2 separate regions of the Homo sapiens genome follow, and region 1 is linked to region 2. A link means that fine-mapping ties the variant in region 2 to the plasma level of a protein whose gene starts in the linked region. Region 2 holds a variant in brackets. A gene starts in the other region. All regions are shown on their forward strands.

Region 1 (10,621 bases), not on the chromosome of region 2:
AGGACCCTCTGGGCCTGTCCCCTCATACTCATTCCTCCGAGTGTCCTGCACCTGGTGGACTCTGAGAGATGGGGTGAAAAAGGCATTTCCTGACCATCAATTTGTTGTTACTTTGATGAAGATTATCTTAAAGAGTTATGTTCCCCTTTAGCAGTATTTGGACATTCGGCCAATTTTTGTTGACCAGATGTAAGACTATGTTGTAGAGAAGGCAAAATGGTGTCATTGAATTATTCATTTATTCATCTTTTCATTCATTCAACAAGTACTTAATAAGTGCCAGGCAGGGTGGTTGCTATGGGAGTAAGAAGGAGAAGGAGCCCCAGCTGCTGCCCTCAGCGTGGTCACATCTGTCAGGATGTGAAGGTTGCAGGCAGCCCCACAGGGAGGCTGGCTGGAGATCAGGGCAGCGAAGAGTGTTTACCACAGGGGTTGCCTCTGGGCATAGGGAAAGAATGGGGGCTCTGTGGGAGCAGAGGGCCCCTAACCCAACTTGGAGCAGGGAGGAAGCAGGGGGGTGGTACTGGATTAAGTTAATTCATTCATTTCAACAGATGTTACTGAGTTCATACCACATGCCAGGCACCTCTGCTGAGACCCAAAGGCTCCATAGGAGTTTGGCAAGTGGAAAGAGAATGAAGGTCTGGGCAAGGGGTGGGGAGGTTTTCAGGCAGAAGCACTGCACACTGAAAGGCTGGAAGAGAAGGTAGAGTTTCAGAAAGACTGGAGAATGGAGTAGGGGATGGGTGAGATATCACGGCCAGACCCTATAGGCCATTGGAAGGGAGAGGCAACAGATCAAGTCCTGGGAGGCGGAGTTCTAGTTCAAGGCCATTTGTAGCTTATTGTATAGCATTAGACAGGTTTTTAGACCTCCTCAGACCTCAGTTTCCTCATCTCTAATAGGGGGCTAGAAATACCCACACGCCTTCTTCTCAGTGTTGTCACGATTAAATGGTTTGAAAAAGTTAAAAATCCTCTGCAAAAGCAAGGAGTTTGCACTGTTATTCCTAGAAACACTGCTTCCTCCTCCTGGGTCCATCCCCATTCCTCCCTTAGGAGGTCCACCATGCCCCTCTGTGCAGCTTGAGGTAGGAAGTGTCAACCTCAGAGGAGAGTTGGAAGAGGAGATGGCCAGGACTGGGGTTTCACTGTGACTTGGGAGACTCGGGGTCTTATTGCCTGCCTCAGGGAAGATCCCACCTCCCAGCCCAGGCCCAGAAGCCCTCCTAAGATACCTGCCACCCTTTGCTCAAGTGACAGCTGCCTTTTCATGACATGACTCCCTACATGCCAAGCCCTATGCTGAGCACTGTCATTCAGGGTCACTTCACAGTTACAGCCCAGACTCGAATCAGTCAGACTCAGGTTCAAATCCTAAATATGTCCCTGCCCCAGTTCCCATCAGTGTGGCCTTGAGGAATTACTTAAGCATTCTGAGAAAATTACTCAGTTTCCTCAACAGTAAAAAAAGTGCATATTAATGAGACCCAGGTCATATGGTGGGTTACGAGGTTTAAATGAGCTTATTAATAAATCCCATGATAAACAGTGATTGTCCAGTGGTGTATAATCTCATTTAATTCTTACAACAGCCTAAGGGAAGAGATACCATTATGGCCATTTTGCAGAGGTGGAATTGGAGGCTCACAGGGGCTACACAGAAATTAGTGGGAGGGCTGGAATTTACACTCAGATCTGACTCTATGTGCTGCTGGAAAGATATGAGCATTGGGCAAGTTGCCTGTTACCCTCAAGTTGATCCCAAATGGGCACCTTTCTTTCTGTCACCTCAGCGGGGTCACCCACAGGGCCTATTCTCTGTTGTCCTGTCTACCAGCAGCCAGCACAGTGTTCAGCACAGAGTTTATCCAAAAAGCACCTGATAAATGGATGGATGAATGGAAGGATAAATGAATGGTTGGCTCTGGCAGCCTCTGGGTCTGCACCGATCCCAGGGCAAGATTCCTAAGAGAACAGCTGGGCCATCTCCAGGTGGCTTCCTGAGGAGGGAATAGGGAAGGAAACTGTGTTTTGCTTCACAGGAAACCTGAGCTGATAGCCTGGCCAAACAGAAGTGTGCCTTGGGCGGGCAGCCTGGCACAGTGAAAATATCTGAGGTTCACAGAAGCAGATATGGGTGTGAGATCAGGCATCATCCCTGGAAAGGTTTCCCCACTTGTGTCTAGAAAATCCCAGGTCCTTAGACATTTTGACACTCATCATCCCATTTAGCCCTCACACTCTAAGGAGGCAGACACAGGGTAAGTTTGGTCTCATAATCCCCATTTTATAGATGAGGAAAATGAGGCTCAGATGTTGAAGGACGTGTACAAGGTTGCCCAGCTCCTAAGTGGCTGTGTTGAAATCTGAACTCCAATCTGCCTAACTGCTAAGTTCTAAGGTAATTTCCACTGCCCCATCCGCAGGCCCAGCCGGAAAGCTCTGGGGTCTCAGACAAATTATTTGCAACACCTGGGTTTGGGTGCAATGATGCCTATGCTGGCCTTCTTCATAGGGAAGTTGCCCAGATGAGATGAAGGCAGGCAAATAGTGGAGATGGAGAAGTGCTTTGAGGAAGTAATAGTAATAATTTGCTGAGTACTGACTACATGTCAGATGGACACTGTTCTACAGGCATTAAGAGCATTCACTCATTTTATTTTCAAGCAAACTTAGAAGATGGGTGGTGTTAACATAGACATCTTCAACAGAGATGTTAACTTCCTCTGTGGTTCAGAGCTAGGAAGAAGTGGAGCCAGGATTTGAACCCAGGTAACCTTGCCCAAAGCTTATACTCTTAATCACTACCTTTGCTGTGTGTCTACTTGTGAGGCACCATAAATGCCTTATAGGAATTAATTGATCAAATCCTCTGGACAACTCTACAAGGTAGATACTCTTACTATCATCTCTAATTTACAGATAAGACAACTAAGGCCCAGAGACAGTAAGGAATTTGCCTAGGATCACACAGCTAAGTTCAGCCGATCACAAAGCTGTGCCCTGAACCATTGCTACCCAAAGCATCAGAAAGTGCCAGGTGAGCCTAAGGAAGAAACATGAGGACTGTGCAGGTTATGGGGGTGTCTGATTCTGTTTCTGGTGGTCCAGGAGTGACCAGAGAAAGAGCTGCCCATGCCCCAGGTACCTGAACAGGAGGAGAATCCACAGTGAGCTCCTCCACGGGGTTCCGCTCGGCGAAGGCAGCCACAGACAGCCGGACCAGGCTCCGCAGGATCTGACGGGGCCCTGATTCTTTCTCAGGGGACACTTTGCCATTGAGATGTCGCTGCCGTCTCAGGGTTGCAGAGGAGGCTGGTGGCCTCTGTGGGGCTTCCTCACTGCCCTGGTCTCCAGCCAGCCTCCCTGTGGGGCTGCCTGCAACCTTCAGAGGCCTGGAACGTGGCTGGCCTGTGGCAGGCTGGGGCTCGGGAAGGTTCAGGTTCTCCCGGGAGGCATTCCTCTGCCTGGGATGGTTGAAAAGGAGGTTGACCGTGTCTTGCAGCACCTCTCGGCTCTCCGCCGGTGCTCCCTGGTTGCCTTGATTACGCAGCGTCCTGTACAGGGTCGGGGTGAGGTGGAAGGGGGCCTGCAGGCAGGGGTCCCAGCCTGCTTCCATCATCGCCTCCTTGTCCACATCTTTGTGGGACTGCCCGACTTCACAAGGCTCACCTGCCTGACCCCTGAGCACAGGCACGAGGTGGATGTCTGCCTTCTGAATGTGTTTCTGGGGCCTCTTGGGCTGCTGGCGGTAGGTGGACTCGGCCTCCCGACAGTTGTAGGCCCTGTTGTCCTTCTTTTCTGTCCGGCAGATGGACATGAACAAAGCCAGGATCAACCCGAAGATGCCCAACAGTACAGCCAGGCAGATCACCGTCAGCATCGACATGCTCAAGGCCCCAGGCTTGCGGGCTGAGTCCCTCAGGTGGTCCACACTGGTGACAAACATGACCCTCAACAGGGCTCGGGTCTGTAAGGGGGGGCTTCCCTGGTCCTCTACTACTATCTCCAGCTCCCACTCACTCCCAATGAGGCTGCTGGCATTGGTGACATTGACGAACAGCTGCCCCGTATGAGGGTTGAGGATGAAGAGGTGGGCTTCATTTCCACTGCGGATGCTGTAGAGGGGCTCTCCATTTGCCCCCGAGTCTGCATCTCTTGCCACAATGGTTGTCAAAAGGAATGGCCGGGAGCTGTGAGTGGCCAGTGGAGGTGTGTCAGTGCCCGCTGGGCCCAAGCCATTGGGAGTCTCGATGGGCACCAGCAGGTGGCCTGTGGAGGCATTCACAAGCACGGAGAGGCTGGCTTTTCCATCGCTGAGCACAGGCTGGACCACCTCTGGGGCATTATCATTGGCATCCAAGAGGCTGACCCACACAGAGACACTGGATGCAAGCATGGGTTGCCCGCTGTCCTCTGCGATCACCTGGAACTCAAAGCCGGCCATCTCTTCATAGTTCAGTGACCTCTGAGCAGTGACCTCTCCTGTGTTGGAGTCAATAGCTACTAAGTGAGCAACTGGGGAGTCCTGGATGCGGTATGAGACTTTTCCATTAATGCCCAAGTCTGCATCATGAGCCTTGATGGTAATGAGGTGAAGAGAGGGTAAGTTGTTTTCCCGCGTGGAGACTTCATACCTGCTTTTCTCAAACACAGGTGCATTGTCGTTGATGTCACTGATCTGAATGCTGAGCTGTTTCTTGGCTGATAAGGGCTGGAGTCCTTGGTCTTGGGCTAACAGAGTGAGGGTATATTTGGGCCACTGCTCTCTGTCCAGTGTGGCATTGGTTAGCAACATGTATGTGTTGCCATTAGTTCTTTTCAGCCTGAAGTGGCCCAGCTCTTGGCTCAGCCAGCAGTGGACCAAACCATTGTGTCCTGAATCCAAGTCATCTGCCATGACAAGAGCAATAAAACTGTCCTTGGGAAGAGCTTCTGACACCAGTGATGGCTGGGAGGCCCATGTGACGTGGATGCTTGGGATGTTGTCATTGACATCCAGAACCTTGATGAGAACTTTGCAATGGGCTGGGATAGGATTGGGACCCAGGTCCCTTGCCTGAACATCCACCTCGTAGGCAGGGTTCTTTTCATAGTCTAGAGGTCGACGCAGAATGACCTGGCCTGTCTTGGCATCAATACTGAAGGTGTCCAGCACCTCTGGAGGCATGTGCTTACTGAGGAAGAACTCCACCTCCCCATTGGGGCCTTGGTCAGGGTCTGTGGCGGTCAGTTTTATGAGAAGCGTACCAGGTGCAGCATCTTCTTGGATTTCCAGTGCCAGTGAACTCTCAGCAAACGCAGGGCTATTGTCATTGGAGTCCAAGACGTTGACCTTGACCAAGCTGGTACCTGACTTGGGGGGGTTCCCATTGTCATAGGCAGTTAACACCAGATCAAAAAATGAATGGATTTCCCTGTCCAGCTCCTTCACCACTATGAGTTCTGCATGTTTGGTCTCATCAGGGCCCACAATGACATCCAAGGCAAAGTGCTCACTGGGAGACAGAGTGTAGGTGTGCAGGGTGTTAGGGCCTGTGTCTGGGTCAAGAGCTCTGTCCAGGGGGATCCGGGTTCGCAGAGAGGCGCTCTCAGAGATTTCCAGCTCCTGCTCGCCTTTGGGAAACCGTGGCTGGTGGTCATTGATGTCCAGCACTTGGATCTCCACATGGATCAGAGCCAAATCCCCTGTGGCAAGCACATCAAAGGAAACCAGGCAGGGATCCCACTGTCGGCACAGCTGCTCTCGATCCAGCCGCCTGCCTGTGCTGAGCAAGCCTTCCTCAGAGTCCACCTGAATGGGGAGCGCCTGAGGCAGCTGCAACACCTGGAAGGCAGCCCCAGCTTGCCTCCGCCTCTCCTCCCGGCCCAGTTCCTGGGACAGCTTCCCGATCACTGTACCAGATGGCACTTCCTCTGACACTTGGTATTTCACCGTGAGAGTGGTCACCTCCTGACAATCCCCTAAAAGAAATAAGTAGCCACCTGGCCCCAAAAGCCCCAGCAGAAGTTGCAGAAGTTGCATCATGCTTACCGCCAAGTGGGCTAGATTCAGAAACCACTAGAGTTCTTTCAAGGCTGGACAAGTCCTCCAGTGTTTCCTGGATGGCTTGATCAGCCCCGTGCTCCTTCCCCCAGAGCTGCCGGCACAACCTTGTCCCATAGTTAGATGATTATGAAACAAGCAGGACCCCAAGGCAAGGCCATCTTCATTGGAAGCGATCTGAGATGTCCAAACGCCGATCAAGAATTGCCAGGGGAGACCCCCTACTGGGGAACTAGTTGGTCCACTTCAGCAAATGATGGACAAGAGCTGGTCTAAGAGGGACCTGACCCAGTTGAGCAGGATGTGGGACTCTGACTGCCAAACAGTTGCTAGGCTGGGGAAACAGAGAAGCAGCTTTTTCCTATGGAAACCCCACCTACAGGAAAAGGGAGGGCTGTGAGTTTCAATGCCAATTAGAGAAAGAGCATTTCCTGTGAAGCTAAGTGGCCTGCCGCTGAGGAGGATGAGGCCGGGGCTCCGGGGACAGGCCAGATGGGAAGCTGCTGTCCACGCAGCAAGGCGGCTGCTGAGGGAAAGGGAGCCTCTGCATCACCAAGTGAGCAGAAAACTTGAGCCTCCACCTGCTTGCACGTGGACTGATGCCCCTCCCGGGCAAGTCATGTTTCCTGTTTCTCTCCCCTTCCCCAACTCTCTTTGTTCCTATCTTTTCCCCCATTGTTCCCCTCTCATTCCTGTCTTTTTCCCAATCTTGTTTACCTCTCTGTCTTGACTCTGCCCTGATCACCCGTTTTTGTCTCACTGGAAAGCAGCTGTGATTAACAGAGCAGCCATCAGAGGTAAACTGCCTGAGTTCAAATTCTGACTTTGCAACTTACCAGCGGTGTCATCTGGGACAAGTCACTTAACTTTCCTGGGCCTCCATTACCTCATCTGTAGAGTGGGGATGGGAGTAAGAATAGTAGCCCTTTCAGCAGGAAACTGTGAGGATTAAACGAAATGATGTAGGAAGGGCTTTGGCCTGGGCCTGGCCCCGAGTCACAGGCAGTGACGTTATTGCAAGGGGTGAGTGTTGTAATCTGCACAACTTGTCACACCCTATGGCTACCTCTGGATCTTGGATTGGCCCTGGGGCAGTCCCTGCCCACACTGACTTATGAGGGTGCCCATGGTCTTGATTCCAGAAGCTGCAAGAACCTGTGCAACTTGACCGTGTGGCTCTCCTCCCGCTTCCCTTCTGCCCCCCTCCAGCCTTGAAGTCCATTGTTCTCTGCATCTGGTCCAGACTGAGTCTCTGTCTGGGGAACCCCCAGCCTCCCACTCCTCTTGGAAGCTTTTATACGTTTCCCTCTCCCACACCTTCCCCTCCCTTTCATCTATGTCTTTCCCCCTTCCTCCAATTCTTCTCTCCCCAGTTTTGTTTATAAGAGTCCCGTGAAGCACATCTCCTTTGCTGCCCCCAACTCTCCTTTTAGATGTTTTAAGGGATACCCTATCTTCCACTCACCTCCTCATAAGGTGAAATTCAGGAAGGAAGGAGGTGAATGAGCAGTTTGCTTGGGTGGGCTTTGAGGTGGCCTTATTGCTTCTTATTGTGCCCTTCAGTTTGCTGCCCCCAACATTCTCCCAGCCTTATACCCACTTCAAGGTTGATCCCTGAGGCTCATGAAGCATTTGAGGTGATGAGAATGAACGCCAGCTTCCCTAGATGGGTGTTTGCTACTAAGCCCTTGGGGCCAGAGATGCCATGTTTGGACCCAAGTGGCACTAGTCAGGGCTTATTGGCATGGAGGCCTGTGGTCATCAGGACTGGGGTGGCTAAGGGACAGTCACCTGCACTCCTTCCCTTTCTCTCTGGCTTTTCTTTCCCTTAACTCCATATCCCACTCCTGAGGTTTCCCAACTATTTCACTGAAACCCATTAAACCATAGCAAGGGGCCTGAATCCAGGGCCACCTCCTACAGCATGGCCCTGGAGACAGACAGGCCACTCACAAGCTCTGAGACACTGCACAAGGGACTTAACCTCTCCTAGCCTCTGTTTCCTTCTCTGAGGGCTGTCATCGATCTCACAAGGTGGGGTAAGGACTCAGCACAGGGCCTGGCTCAGAGAAAGCACTCAGCACATAAGGACTATGATTTTGCTGTTTATTATCTTCCAAGTTTTATGCCTCATACGCAAATGGCAAAGATGGCCTTGCATTTGTCCCTTCACTTTTTTCTTTGCCTCTTTGGCAGGAATCCCATTTCTCAGGTCTCCCTCAGCTTGGTGTGGGCAAGGTGCTGCCTAAGCTACTAGGAGCCCCTGGGAGCTCAGGGACACAAGGGTGCCCATTGCCCCCTGCTGGCAGCCCACGTGACAGTCTCACTATCCGCCCCGCAATCGTCCCCCTGTGTGCCTGACAGTGAACAAGGCAAGGGGCTGACAGTCGCAGGTGGGGGCAGGGAAAATGAAAGGCGAGAGGCCAGTAGAATGGCTCTGGAATCAGGCCTGGGGGTCCGGGAGGCTCCTCATGGAGGGCACACGCTGAATCCTGACGGACCTGGAGGAGTGAGCCCGAGGAAGTTGAATAGGCAGGAGACAGGCAAAGCTGGTGGCAGGGGCAAAATGGGCAAAGGCCCCGAAGTGGGCAGGCTGGCTCCTGGCTGTGCTGCAAGAGGGTCAGTGCAGTAGTGTAGGGAGGAAGGTTGGGCAGGGGACATAAGCAGGGGTCCTCAGATGATGCAGTGGCCTGGGTTCCCATGGCTAAGAATTTAGACCTTGTCCTGAAGGTCGTGGAGTGCTTTTGAAAAGCTCTACGCAGGATAATGAGAACAGCGACCACATGCCAGGCCTTGTCCTAAGTGCTTTACCTACATCCTCTCATGACGCACTCACAGCCATACCATCACATTGAAGATGCTGAGCACACAGCGTTAGGTAACTTGCCCAAGATCACACAGATGTGCCCTCCAGAAAGGCCTTTTGGCTGCACCCTGGAAAATGGCTTGGAAGGGAACAGAGAAGAGGGAGGGAGCCTAGTTGAGAGTAATGCAGGGGAGCTTTGATGCAGAAAACTCGTTTCCAGAGCGCCATCTGGTGGCCAAAGGCAGAGAAAACGGCACAGAGGCAGGGACCGGGGACAGCCACGAAAACAGGAAGTGGGTGCCTGGGGTTCATAAATATCCACAGCTCCAGCCCCGTGCTACACAGAAGAATACAACAGGAGAAGCTACTCACTGATGACAATAGTATCTCTTAATGGAAAACCTAACGTGGACCAAGGCCACAGAAGGAGTTATGGAATTCATGATAATTTTACTTGTGTTAACATTTATATTCTTCAGAGGACATTGTTTTATCTATATATATTTTACATGCAGTTATATATCTGTTGGGTGTGTGTGTGTGTGTGTCTGTGTTTTGACTGGGAATGTGAATGCAAAAAAATGATGCATAGGTCGCAAGAAAGTTTGAATTTAGATTTCATAGGTGGTTTTTATTGTTTGTTTTATTCACACTGGGGACATGAAGCTAAGATTACCCTTTGAGATTTCAAAGCTGGCAAACAAGGCCCCAGACTTTTTTAAGGTGATCACCTCTGGAAATGAGGTCCCCATTTAGCAATTTTCTCTCCTCCTTCTGGCTGCAGGGGTCAGCTGATCTTTAGCAGTCAAATGCCAAGGGGTGAATGGAGCTGTCACTAGAGTTCGTCTGGAAAGGCGACGTTTTCCTGAGTTTTGAAAATAGGTTTGAAGGAGTGGAGGTACTCTGAAATAGGTTTGAAACAATTGAGGACAGCCTCCCTTAAGTCCAAAATATTTTTTTTAAAAGGGCAGGATTAGGGTTTGTGCTTGAAGGCCTCACTAACCACCAAACTTGGGGTTGTTCACACTTGGGTTCTTAACCACAGGGAGGGCTGAGGGGTGAAGTGGGAAGGGTGGGGGTTCAGAGAATCTTCTTAAAACACCTGGAGTCCTAAGGAACCTTGAGGGGTCAGACTAGTAAGGTGTGACTCTGACCCTTGGAGGACTCCCAGGCCAGCTGAATGAAGGCTGAGATCACACCTCGCCCCTACGAATGTCCCGCTGGGCTGGCTGCCCCACTTCCAGGGCTCTGGTCTTCCAGGCTTTCTCCTCGTGAATCTCCCCTGTGGTTGCCACAGCATCACCACCAAGACAGCTTTGGGGAAGCCAAGAAGCATCCTCCGGCTTATCCCAGGTAGGGAGGTGGTTGGACCGTCCAAGCTCAGCGTCTTTTTTCAGGAAGATCTTGTTGAAGTTAGATTCCTAGTCAGACCAGGAATCTTGACTGGGAGACTCAGGTAGATGTTCTGGGTTATCTGCTCCTAGCAGGGCACTTTGTGGACTTTGTTGAGACAGATGACAGGTGCTGTCTCCCACACAATGGCACCTGTTTCTGGGGTCAGTGCAGAAAAAAGAATGCACTTTGCAGGGAGAAATTTGCCAAGAAATAGGACCTTTCAAGAAATGAAAAAGCTTTATGTCTTGGTTAACAGCGGCAGTTCTCAAAAGGGTCCAGATATCGAAGTCACTTGGAAAGCTTTACAAAATACCAGGGACAGGGCAAGAAAATTCATACTTTTCCCTTTCCCAGAATACTGCCAAAGAATA
Region 2 (10,621 bases):
CTGTGACTCTAGCACCGAGTGGGGCTAGGGGAACCTTCTCCTCTGTTGGGAATAACCACCACATTCATCCCCTCCCCTGACCCCTGGACAAGAGTGGAGGACACTTGGAGTGGAGACAAGCAGGGGTACCTGTTTAAATCAACAGCTGAGGCCAGATGCAGAGGCTCATGCCTGCAATCCCAGCACTTTGGGAGGCTGAGGTGGGAGGATCACTTGAGCCCTAAGAGTTGAAGACCAGCCTGGGCAACATGGCAAAACCCCATCTCTACAAACAATAAAAAAAAAAAACAGCTGGACATGGTGGCATGCGCCTGTAGTGGCAGATAACTCAGGAGGCTGAGGTGGGGGGATCTGCTTGAGCCCAGGAGGTGAAGGCTGCATTGAGCTGTGATTGCACCACTGCACTCCAGCCTGGGTGACAGAGCAAGACCCTGCCAAAAAAAAAAAAAAAGAAGAAGAAAAACAATTTTATTGGTAGAGGCGGGGGGAATAATAGAGATACAGCACCAGCTCCCTGCCTCTAAAATGTGGGCACCTGGGTAACTAGATAGCGCAGGAAGTTAGAACAAATAAAAGCAGCAAACTCTGTGACTGAAGTTTCAGCACATGGATGGCAAATATTTTCAAGTTTGGTGAAAATAGGTAAGAGATCAAAGCCCAAGAATAAACCCTGGGGTCATTACAGGATTTCCTGTAAAGGCATCAGGAAATGTTTTTGGAAGAATGTGATTGTCTTCGTTGATATCAACCCAAAGATGTGGTTATTGTTCAGAATGTCCTGATTTTCTTTAAATGTTTTGTTTCTATCTGACCTCTCATTATAAATGAGAAACTTATAAATTATAAATATACACTCATTATAAATGAAGATTGCTTGGTAATGGACTAATGGATAATTGTTTCTGCTTCTTTAGGATGTTCTAAATTTTTCCCAAGTTTTGTACATTAAGCACAAAATTATAACAGGAAAATAAAGAAAAGAATTTAAAATAAACATGCAACCAAATTTTAAACAGATAAGTATATCATATTAGATAGGAATCACCATACTGGGTCAGTCACCCCTCCTCCAAATTTTTCTTTATTCTTTTTTTTTTATTATACTTTAAGTTTTAGGGTACATGTGCACAACGTGCAGGTTTGTTACATATGTATACATGTGCCATGTTGGTGTGCTGTACCCATTAACTCGTCATTTACCATTAGGTATATCTCCTAATGCTATCCCTCCCCCCTCCCCCCACCCCACAATAGGCCCTGGTGTGTGATGTTCCCCTTCCTGTGTCCATGTGATCTCATTGTTCGATTCCCACCTATGAGTGAGAATACGTGGTGTTTGGTTTTTTGTCCTTGTATTAGTTTGCTGAGAATGATGGTTTCCAGCTTCATCCATGTCCCTACAAAGGACACGAACTCCTCATTTTTTATGGCTGCATAGTATTCCATGGTGTATATGTGCCACATTTTCTTAATCCAGTCTATCGTTGTTGGACATTTGGGTTGGTTCCAAGTCTTTGCTATTGTGAATAGTGCCACAATAAACATATGTGTGCATGTGTCTTTATAGCAGCATGATTTCTAATCCTTTGGGTATATACCCAGTAATGGGATGGCTGGGTCAAATGGTATTTCTAGTTCTAGATCCCTGAGGAATCGCCACACTGACTTCCACAATGGTTGAACTAGTTTACAGTCCCACCAACAGTGTAAAAGTGTTCCTATTTCTCCACATCCTCTCCAGCACCTGTTGTTTCCTGACTTTTTAATGATCGCCATTCTAACTGGTGTGAGATGGTATCTCATTGTGGTTTTGATTTGCATTTCTCTGATGGCCAGTGATGATGAGCATTATAAATGAAGATTGCTTGGTAGTGGACTAATGGATAATTGTTTCTGCTTCTTTAGGATTTTCTAAATTTTTCCCAAGTTTTGTATATTAAGCACAAAATTATAACAGGAAAATAAAGAAAAGAATTTAAAATAAACATGCAACCAAATTTTAAACAGATAAGCATATCATATTAGATAGGAATCACCATATTGGGTCAGTCACCCCTCCTACAAATTTTTCCAGAGCTCTAATTAGCTCCCAAGAGTTTCATGGGACTTTTAAATTTCTGAACGGGCCGAGGACATAGAATAGTGGAAAAGAGGGGGATTCTAGGCAGTATGACAGATAAGTTACACGTCTTTGGATGAGGCACTTAAGCTTTCTTTGTCTCACTTTCCACTATGAAAAGTACATAGGCCAGGCATGGTAGCTCATGCCTGTAATCCCAGCACTTTAGGAGGCCAAGGCAGGAGGATCATTTGAGGTCAGGAGTGTGAGACAAGCCTGGGCAACATGGTGAAACTTCATCTGTACAAAAAATACAAAAAATTAGCTGGGCATGATGGCATGCACCTGTAATCCCAGCTACTTGGGAGGCTGAGGTGGAAGGCTCCCTTGGGTCCAGGAGGCAGAGGTTGCAATGAAGCAAGATGTAGCCACTGCACTCCAGCCTGGGCAACAGAGCCAGACTTTGTCTCAAAAAAAGAAAAGTAGATAGACTATTACCTGCCATAATTACCAACTATGGTTGTTTGCCAAATAAAACAAGTGATTTGAAAGGAACTTCAGGAATATAGGCAAAATATAAATAATTATTAAAACCATGGGTGACTGAAGCTTAGAGAATTTGCTTTTGAAATCTCAGGAAGTACCATGGAATGCAATGATTTCTTCTGTCAGGTTTCTTAGTTGGAGGCAATAGAATTCACTCTAACTAGTTCAAGCAGAAAGGTACTTGTTATATGGTATTAGGAAGCTTATAACATTTTGGGAGGCTCAGTGATCCAAATTTAGTTGCTATACAATCAGGATCAATTCACCCAGGAGAAATACCTAATCCCCCTATGAGGGTGTTCTGGCAAAAGCTTCATAACCTCCCCTGCCTTCCACTTAGCACCAAGACACAGAGAACAGGACACTGGAACCTTCACTGAAGCTGGAGGAACCAAATCCCTCTGCCTGTGCTTGGCCCCACTCACACCAACTTTCCAAGTCTCATATCAGCCACATGCAGAGCCCTGGCTGTCAAGGAGTCTGGAAATGTAGCATTTGTTTCCCAGCCTCTATAGTGGAGGAAGACCTGCTAGAAGAGGGTCAGAGTGGCTACTGAACAAGCCCGTCCGCAGTGTCTACCACCCCAAAACAAAGATTTTTAAGATCAAACACAACATGAAAAACACACTCTCTTAAGAAAAATATAAGCAAAATATGATTTATTTTTATCTCCACAGCTGTGGTAGATCCACAAGATGCTGTGCTGGAGGCTGAACTACACCTGGCATTTTACTATGAGGGAGAACCTGCTGGCAGAGGAGATGGAAAGACAGCGGGAACTTGCACTGCAGGGGAGGGTGCTACAGGGGAGTGTGGCAACAAGTGTGTTTTATTATAAGCCAATTAGTACTATTTGTCTTTTTAAATAACACACATATGTTTGTATGTGTGTCTTTGTGTGTGTTGGTGTTGTATGGTAACCCGACCTGATAGTAATAAGTTAACAAGAAATGACGGTTTCCAGATGGAGGTTGCTGGGGGGAGAGTGCTAAGTGAACATGCTATGCGAACTGCATGCTTTTTACAAGAGGTTGAGGTTCTCCCATCCAGTCCACCACCACTGAACTGCCCTGTATTTAAGTCCCCTTCAGGAAACCCTGTGCCTGCTTTGCTGGCTCCAGGTCTCTTCTTCAGCCTCTTGAACCTGGTGCCATCCCTACTGCAGTTAATACGGGTCCAGTACAACAAGTGTCTATTTAGTAGCCTGGAGAAAATGCATAATGATTTAATAGTGATTATGTCTGGGTGTTAGAATTATTAGTGATTTGTATTTTCTTTGTAATATTTTTCTGAGCTTTTGTTCCTTAATTTCTTTCCATGAGCGTAATGTATCGTAAAACAAGAAAAATCTGTCACTTGAGTTCTCAGATAGGACAATATTATGGTCATGTTTTTGGTTTGTTCATTTGTTTAAGCTTTTATTTGGACATAATTTCAGACTTACAGAAAATTTGCCAAAGGAAAAGTAGTACAAAGAACACTTGAATCCCCACTGCCCAGATTCAGTTACTGTTTACATTTTAGCCCATTTGCTTTGTCCTTTGTGCCATGGTCATTTAAAAAAATGTGATGCGCATTAAGTACTTATGGATGAAATCATATGATGTCTGGGATTTGCCTTAAAATACTAGAATGGGGAGGAAAAAAGGAATAAGGGAGAGAAATAAAACAGGAAGAGCAGAAAATTATGGTCATTGAAGCTGGGTGACAGGTAAAGGAAGGTTCGTTTTTCTATTTCCCTTTCTTTTTTTTAGTTTTAAATTTTTTTCCATAATAAAAAATGTTAAAAAGCAGTGGAAGGATAAAAAATACTATTAGTCAAAAAAAAAAATCACACCAAAGAATTTCACTGATTTGACTGGTTCAATTAGCCACAAGAAAAGTTTGTCAAACACTCACAAAAAAGAGAACCTGAAAGTCTGCCAGGCAGCTAAAATTGTAGTTGGACAGCAAAAAATTTAAAATCAAATTAAGACTTTTACAACAAGGTTAAAAAGTAATTCTTTGGACTATATCAGAAAGGCCTTCCTGGAGCTTAATGAAAAACAAGTCCCCTGGATCTTCTAACATTTCATCCATTTATGATCTTATCCTTAGGTGAACCAACTCTTGGCTGGTTCACATTTTTTATCGTCTTCTGGCAAAATGTTAAAAATTTCTTAACAGATCCTTCTTAGCCTTTGTGCCAGAAATTTCTCTTTTATGCACAGTCCCAAGTAAATAATCCAACAGGCAGCAAAATTAATTAGTTACCAACGTGTTCAGGCTAAAAGAGAACCTGTCTGGGCCGTATTGAGGGTAGGCCTGCACCCGGGGAGCACTGGCAACTGCTGACGTCCTGTGAGAAAAACAGGAGAGGATCCAGCGC[C/T]CAACACCCAGGCTAAGGAAATTATGCTATAATTCCATGTCAGGGAGCCCACAGACATTAGCTGTGCAAACATGTGGACTATGTCAAAACACAATCAAGTTCAAGAAATAATGTTTAGGGAAGAACAGGACACAGAATAGGATATCCACACAGGATAACATGAATACAATTTCACTGAAAAGCAAAACGAGGGAATAGGATGGAGGAAACTGAGTTTATTGTTCATTTGCTTTTCTTTTGTAAAGTTACATAACTTTGCTGTAAAAAGGAAGGAGAGAGGGGAGGAAGGAAGAAAAGAAGGGAGGACAGAAGAAAGCCTTATCTGAGATCTGAGATATATATTTTAACTGTGATTTAAGGGCTAAGAAAGCCAAGATTCTAGGAGACAGGAGATTAGAGGAAGTCACTTTTGGGCTCTTGAGGTAAATCCAGCAGAATTATTGACTGGATAGGCTATGGAGAGTGCTAATTCATTTCCCACACTCTGGTCAATATTAGGTGACCTGTGATAAGGTGGAAGACAAAACATTCAAAGAACAATTTTTTAACATCACTTTGTTATGCAACCAAACACAAAACAGACCAAATGTTATTAGCATTGCTCAATGTCTCCTCTTTCTGTGCCTCATCATCCTCCTCCACCTCCCACCATGCTAATGAAGGCCCCAGACATCTCCAGCCTGGACCATCACAACTGTAACAATCTTACTGAGCAAGCAAAGCTCTTGGGATAGAATCCTAAAGTAACTTCACTTTTGTACACTTTCATGTGATAGTCAAAACTCTGAACACAGTTTCATTTGGGCCTCTTCCCCTTCCTCAGCTCAGGCCTCCTGCAGATGAACAAGCCTATAGTCAGAGAAGAGGGTGTGGTTAGCCATTTCCCCCTTCACCCCATTTGTGCCGTGCCCTTTCCTCTGTGCACACGTGGTTAATCCCTCCGAAACTGGGACACAGGGAGGAAGGAAAGTAAGTTACAGCTGACTCTTTTGCTTGTGGGTACTTTCATGTGTTCTTTGGAGCCTTCTTCCATTGCTGGAGACCTGTCTCCTCCAGGTTCCTTAATGGGGGTGATATACTCTCCTCACCTGGAAGCATCTTTTGATATACCTAGTTTCTGTTTGCCCCTCCAGGCAACCCTCTTGACCAGGACCTAAGAACATGCAAAAGAATAAACTCTAAATTCCTATTGCCCTGGGGTTCTTTTCCAGGCAGCAAGGGCCACCGGATAAAATAAATGACGCAATGCAGATACACAGAAACACTCCACTTACTTCCCCTGACAGCCACTTCCATGGAAGATTCAACACAGCTGAAAGGCCCAAAAAAAGTTCTTGAGTTCCCAGGTGTGAATAATAACAGGGACAAAGACTCTTTCCTTTGACCAAAACTTTAGTCAAGCTCCTCTGAGTGCTCCTCATAACTAGGCCCAACCTTGGGCTTCCCTCCCTGTCCTTGCTGAATCAAATGTGAGCAAGAATCCTGTTAAGTCAGGTTAGGGAAAATCCCCCACTCTAGGTATCTGACCACCCTCAATATCTTATCACCCTGGCCTGCCTGCAGCAAGAATCCTATCAAGTTAGTTTAGCCAGACACCCCTTATCCCTGATGTTTCCTCTTAGTCATTTTCCACCCACAGTCACCACCCTGCTCCTTCGCTACGAATCCCCACTTGTACTGGTTGGGGTCAGAGTTAAGTCTGATTGGCAAGACCCTGTTGCAGTGGTCCCTACACCTATTGCCATGGCCCCCTCCAGTAAAATCTGCCTGACCATCTTGCCTAGTGCTTGGGTAATCTTTTTTTTAACAACCATTATTTCAAATTCAAAATCATGCCCTCAACATCACTTCCTTGGTCCCAAGCCCCCTCCCAGACTCCTTCCAGACATTCCCCTAAGGTGGGAGCTGTGGCTTTTTTCATTATAATACCCTTAAGGAGTCAGCCACATAATCAGGACACCCAAGAGTAGAGATTTCAAAGTTCAACTGAATCCCTCGACACATTTGGTTTTGACTCTAGCTATTTTCTTGGCTCAACTCCCTGTTCTGTTATATAGGCAAGATTCTGTAGTTTCTTCCTTCCTATCTTGTCTGACTCCCCCCAATATGTGATCTAAAACCACTAACTTAAAACATTTCACTTCTGTTAACTATAACCTCATAATTCACCCTTCCCAATAAACTGGATTTTCCTACTTGATCAACAATATTCAATGATTTTCATTTGCCACTTCAGAAAAACCCCACCAACATCAATGAGACATATTCTATTGCATTTCATGAGACATCAATGAGTGTGATCTGGAGAAAATATTTATTTAAGCCAGAAACAAAAATTTTGATCTGGAGAAAATATTTATTCGAGCCAGAAACAAAAATTTCTTTGCAACATTGGCAGTTATAGAAATTATCCTAACAAGAGTCAACCCCACAGAGCCTTGTGGACTTTGAAAGGATCTAAGACCACGGCAGAGACTCACCTTTTAGTAAAGCAGTAAGTCTTGACATCGTGTGAGTTTGGACATTGATGGATGATCCTCTTGGATTTGATTTGAGCAGATAACCCACAAAAGGTGTGTATGCCTCTCCTACATTTTTGGATTCTTTCACTGTGCTTGATAAAAGAAGGCAAATAGAATTTAGGATGTCAAGTTGAAGTTAATAGTAAGATTCAAGTGATTTGGATTCTCTAATTATAGTCAAAGAAAACACTCAGCTTCCTTAACAAAACTAGCGGGTAAAACGATCTGACTTCAGATGTATCAGATACACAAATTAGCACTATCCTCCAGAACCAAACTGCATCCACCTGGTTATAACAATCTCATTCTAAATCCCAGCAGTTTGGGAGGCCGACGTGGGGGGATCACGAGGTTAGGAGATCGAGACCATCCTGGCTAACACAGTGAAACCCCGTCTCTACTTTAAAAAAATACAAAAAAGTAGCCGGGCGTGGTGGCGGGCGCCTGCAGTCCCAGCTACTCCGGAGGCTGAGGCAGGAGAATGGCGTGAACTCGGGAGGCGGAGCTTGCAGTGAGCGGAGATAGCACCACTGCACTCCAGCCTGGGCGACAGAGCAAGACTCCGTCCAGAGCAAGGCTCCGTCTCAAAAAAAAATGCCATTCTATAATAAAAAAAAAATCCCTTTAATGCCTCTTTTATTAAACTCTCTTGAACAGGGTTCAATATAGTATCACCTTTTACCAAATTCCAGTGCAAAACAAACAAACATTTCAGATGGCAGTGTACTAAAGGATTCTTGCGAGTAACTCGCAGTATAATTTTTGTCAGGTCACTTACTGTGGTAGGCAGAATAATGGCCTCCAAATATGTCTATGTCCTAATCCCTGGAACCTGTAACTATGTTCTGTGGCAAAGGGGAATTAGGTTGCATATGGAATTATGATCACTAATCAGATGACCTTGAGATAGGAAAAGTATCCAGGTGGGCTGGATCACAAGGGTCCTTATAAGTGGAAGAGGGAGGCAGGAGAGTCAGGGTCAGAGTCAGAGAGAGATTTTAAGATGGTAGAAGTGACGAGAAGCCAAGGAACACAGGTGGCCTCTGAAAGCTAGAAACAGCAAGGAGCAGATTTTCCCTTAAACTTTCCAGAAAGAAATGCCAGTACCTTTAACTCAGTGAGATCCATTTTGGACTTCCAACCTCCAGAACTATAAGGTAACAAATTTGTGTTGTTTTAAGCCACTAATTTGCAGTCATCTGTTACAACAGCAATAGAACAGACACCTTCACACTTGCCCTTTCTAGGCCTCAGTTTTCTAATGTGTCCACTGGGGGAGGCAGGGGTGGTTCTGCTCTGACATTCTATGGTTGCGAGTCTTCCTGAACCGTGAAAGAATCAGGTCTTTCTCAGACCACAAAGATTTTGTGTGTTCAAACCACTGCAACTTCTGAAAACTTTCACATGGTAATAGGAATTGGTTGTCATAAAATTCATTTGACAATATGATGTTAGGATTAAATGACACTACAGAGAAAAATCAGACAAATCCAACATACTGAAATTCTTTCTATAGGACAACTGTTCTGGTCTCATCAAAAGGTCAGTATCTAGGTAGGTAGGTAGATAGATAGATAGATAGATAGATAGATAGATAGATAGATAGATAGATACACACACACATACATGGCACACATATATGGCATTTCTAATACACAAGTCTAAAGAGATATAGCAACCAAATATAATTATAACATTTGAATTAAAGAAAAATTTGGGAAATGTGAATTTGAACTGATTTTTAGATAAAATTGAGGAAGTATTGTTAGTTTTCCTAGGGGTGATAATGTGGTTATGTAACAAAATGTCGTTATATTTAGGGGATGAATGCCAAACAGTTTTGAGGTAACTGGTCACAATATCTGCAACTCAATTTTAAATGTTTTATACAAAAAAATAGACACAGATATATGTTAAAATATATGGCAAGATGCTCATAATTATGTAATCTGAGTGGTGATATAGAGGTGTTTGCTACACTGTTTCTGAATGTTTAGAAATTTGGTAACAAAAAGTTGGGGGATTTGTTTTTAAAAACTCTTTACAAATGTTTGTTAAACTTTTGCTCAGAAACTTTACATTTTGGATTCAAGATGCTCCCTTTGTATAGAACTGTTTAAAGCTATTTTGTAGCAACTCAGATTTGTGGCAAGATAACTACCACCTTATGTAAAATAGTTTAGATAAGTTTCCAGTCAAAAAGCTCATGGGAAAAAAAGTGATGTTCTTCTATGAATCAGTGGGAAATTACTGCCCTCTCATTGAAGAAAGCCTCACTTGGTGGAATGGGGATTTTTAGTCTGAGCAGGTCAGAGATTTTCATTTCTTGATTTTGCCAACAGAAGGGATAAAAGTGAAACTCTGAATATGATAAATAGAAAATTATTGCCAAGTAAAAGAAGGCAGGCACAAAAATTATTCCCTAAACACCAACATCCTACAACCAGTAGCAGAAGGAGGCTGCAAGAAATTTGTGTTTCTAAGTCTGACTAAAGTCCCAGAGCTGCGCCAGTCATTTTCTACGGACATACAAGAGAACACCAGAGAAAAAAATTAAACAGTATCATTCTAGTAAGCCCAGAGACAAGAACAGGATTAGCTAGAGATAGAATGAAAAATACTTTTATATAGTTTGCCTTTTTGACTTGAGAAAATATGACTAGTCAATACTGATTTCTATTTATATTAAAATAATTCTTAATATAAATATATTAGATATTATTAAAATAAGTAATATAAATATATTAGATATTAAGTACTAAAATAATACTTAATGATTAAAAGTTTTTATTAAAATGGTTAGTTTTTAATTTTTATTTGAAAATATATAGTTTAAATCTACAATGGAATTCATACAGAAAATTATAATTTGATCATATTGTGGATGACAGAGCCAAGATATCTGCTACCACCTGGTGGAGCATAACTGAATTGCAGTAAAAGCCTGAGATGAGAGGGTAGGAGAGATTGTCAACATCTAGCTTAAAGAAATCCCACCTAGGCCGGGTGCAGTGGCTCACGCCTGTAATCCCAACACTTTGGAAGGCCGAGTTGGGCGGATCGCCTGAGGTCAAGAGTTTGAGACCAACCTGGCCAAAATGGTGAACCCCCGTCTCTACTAAAAAA

Direction of the effects. Positions count from the first base shown, and alleles are read on the strand shown. Strength reflects both the effect of a copy and how common the allele is.
As copies of C replace T in region 2, the plasma level of the protein whose gene starts at base 6,382 in region 1 goes down (moderate association).

What was found. A credible set is the group of variants that fine-mapping cannot tell apart. PIP is the posterior inclusion probability: the model's chance that the variant is causal. The UK Biobank Pharma Proteomics Project read protein levels with antibody pairs (Olink). The fine-mapping took linkage between variants from a reference panel, not from the people measured, so its PIPs are less certain.
Region 1: it holds the start of PCDH12, and the variant in region 2 is the best candidate, but not a certain one, in a credible set for the plasma level of the PCDH12 protein (UK Biobank, PIP 0.82).

The regions. Positions count from the first base shown.
Region 1 is chr5:141,951,821-141,962,441 of GRCh38, forward strand. PCDH12 (protocadherin 12) reads right to left here and starts at 6,382. Exons shown (of 4, transcript NM_016580.4): 1 at 3,152-6,382. The coding sequence starts at 6,031. It also overlaps a transcript of RNF14 not described here. RefSeq lists enhancers at 5,242-6,148, 6,149-7,054.
Region 2 is chr3:122,289,645-122,300,265 of GRCh38, forward strand. It overlaps CASR (calcium sensing receptor), which reads left to right. Exons shown (of 7, transcript NM_000388.4): 7 at 1-1,985. Among named protein-coding and RNA genes, the nearest start is that of CSTA, 30 kb to the right of the region's middle. The variant C/T (reference allele first, on the strand shown) is at 4,974.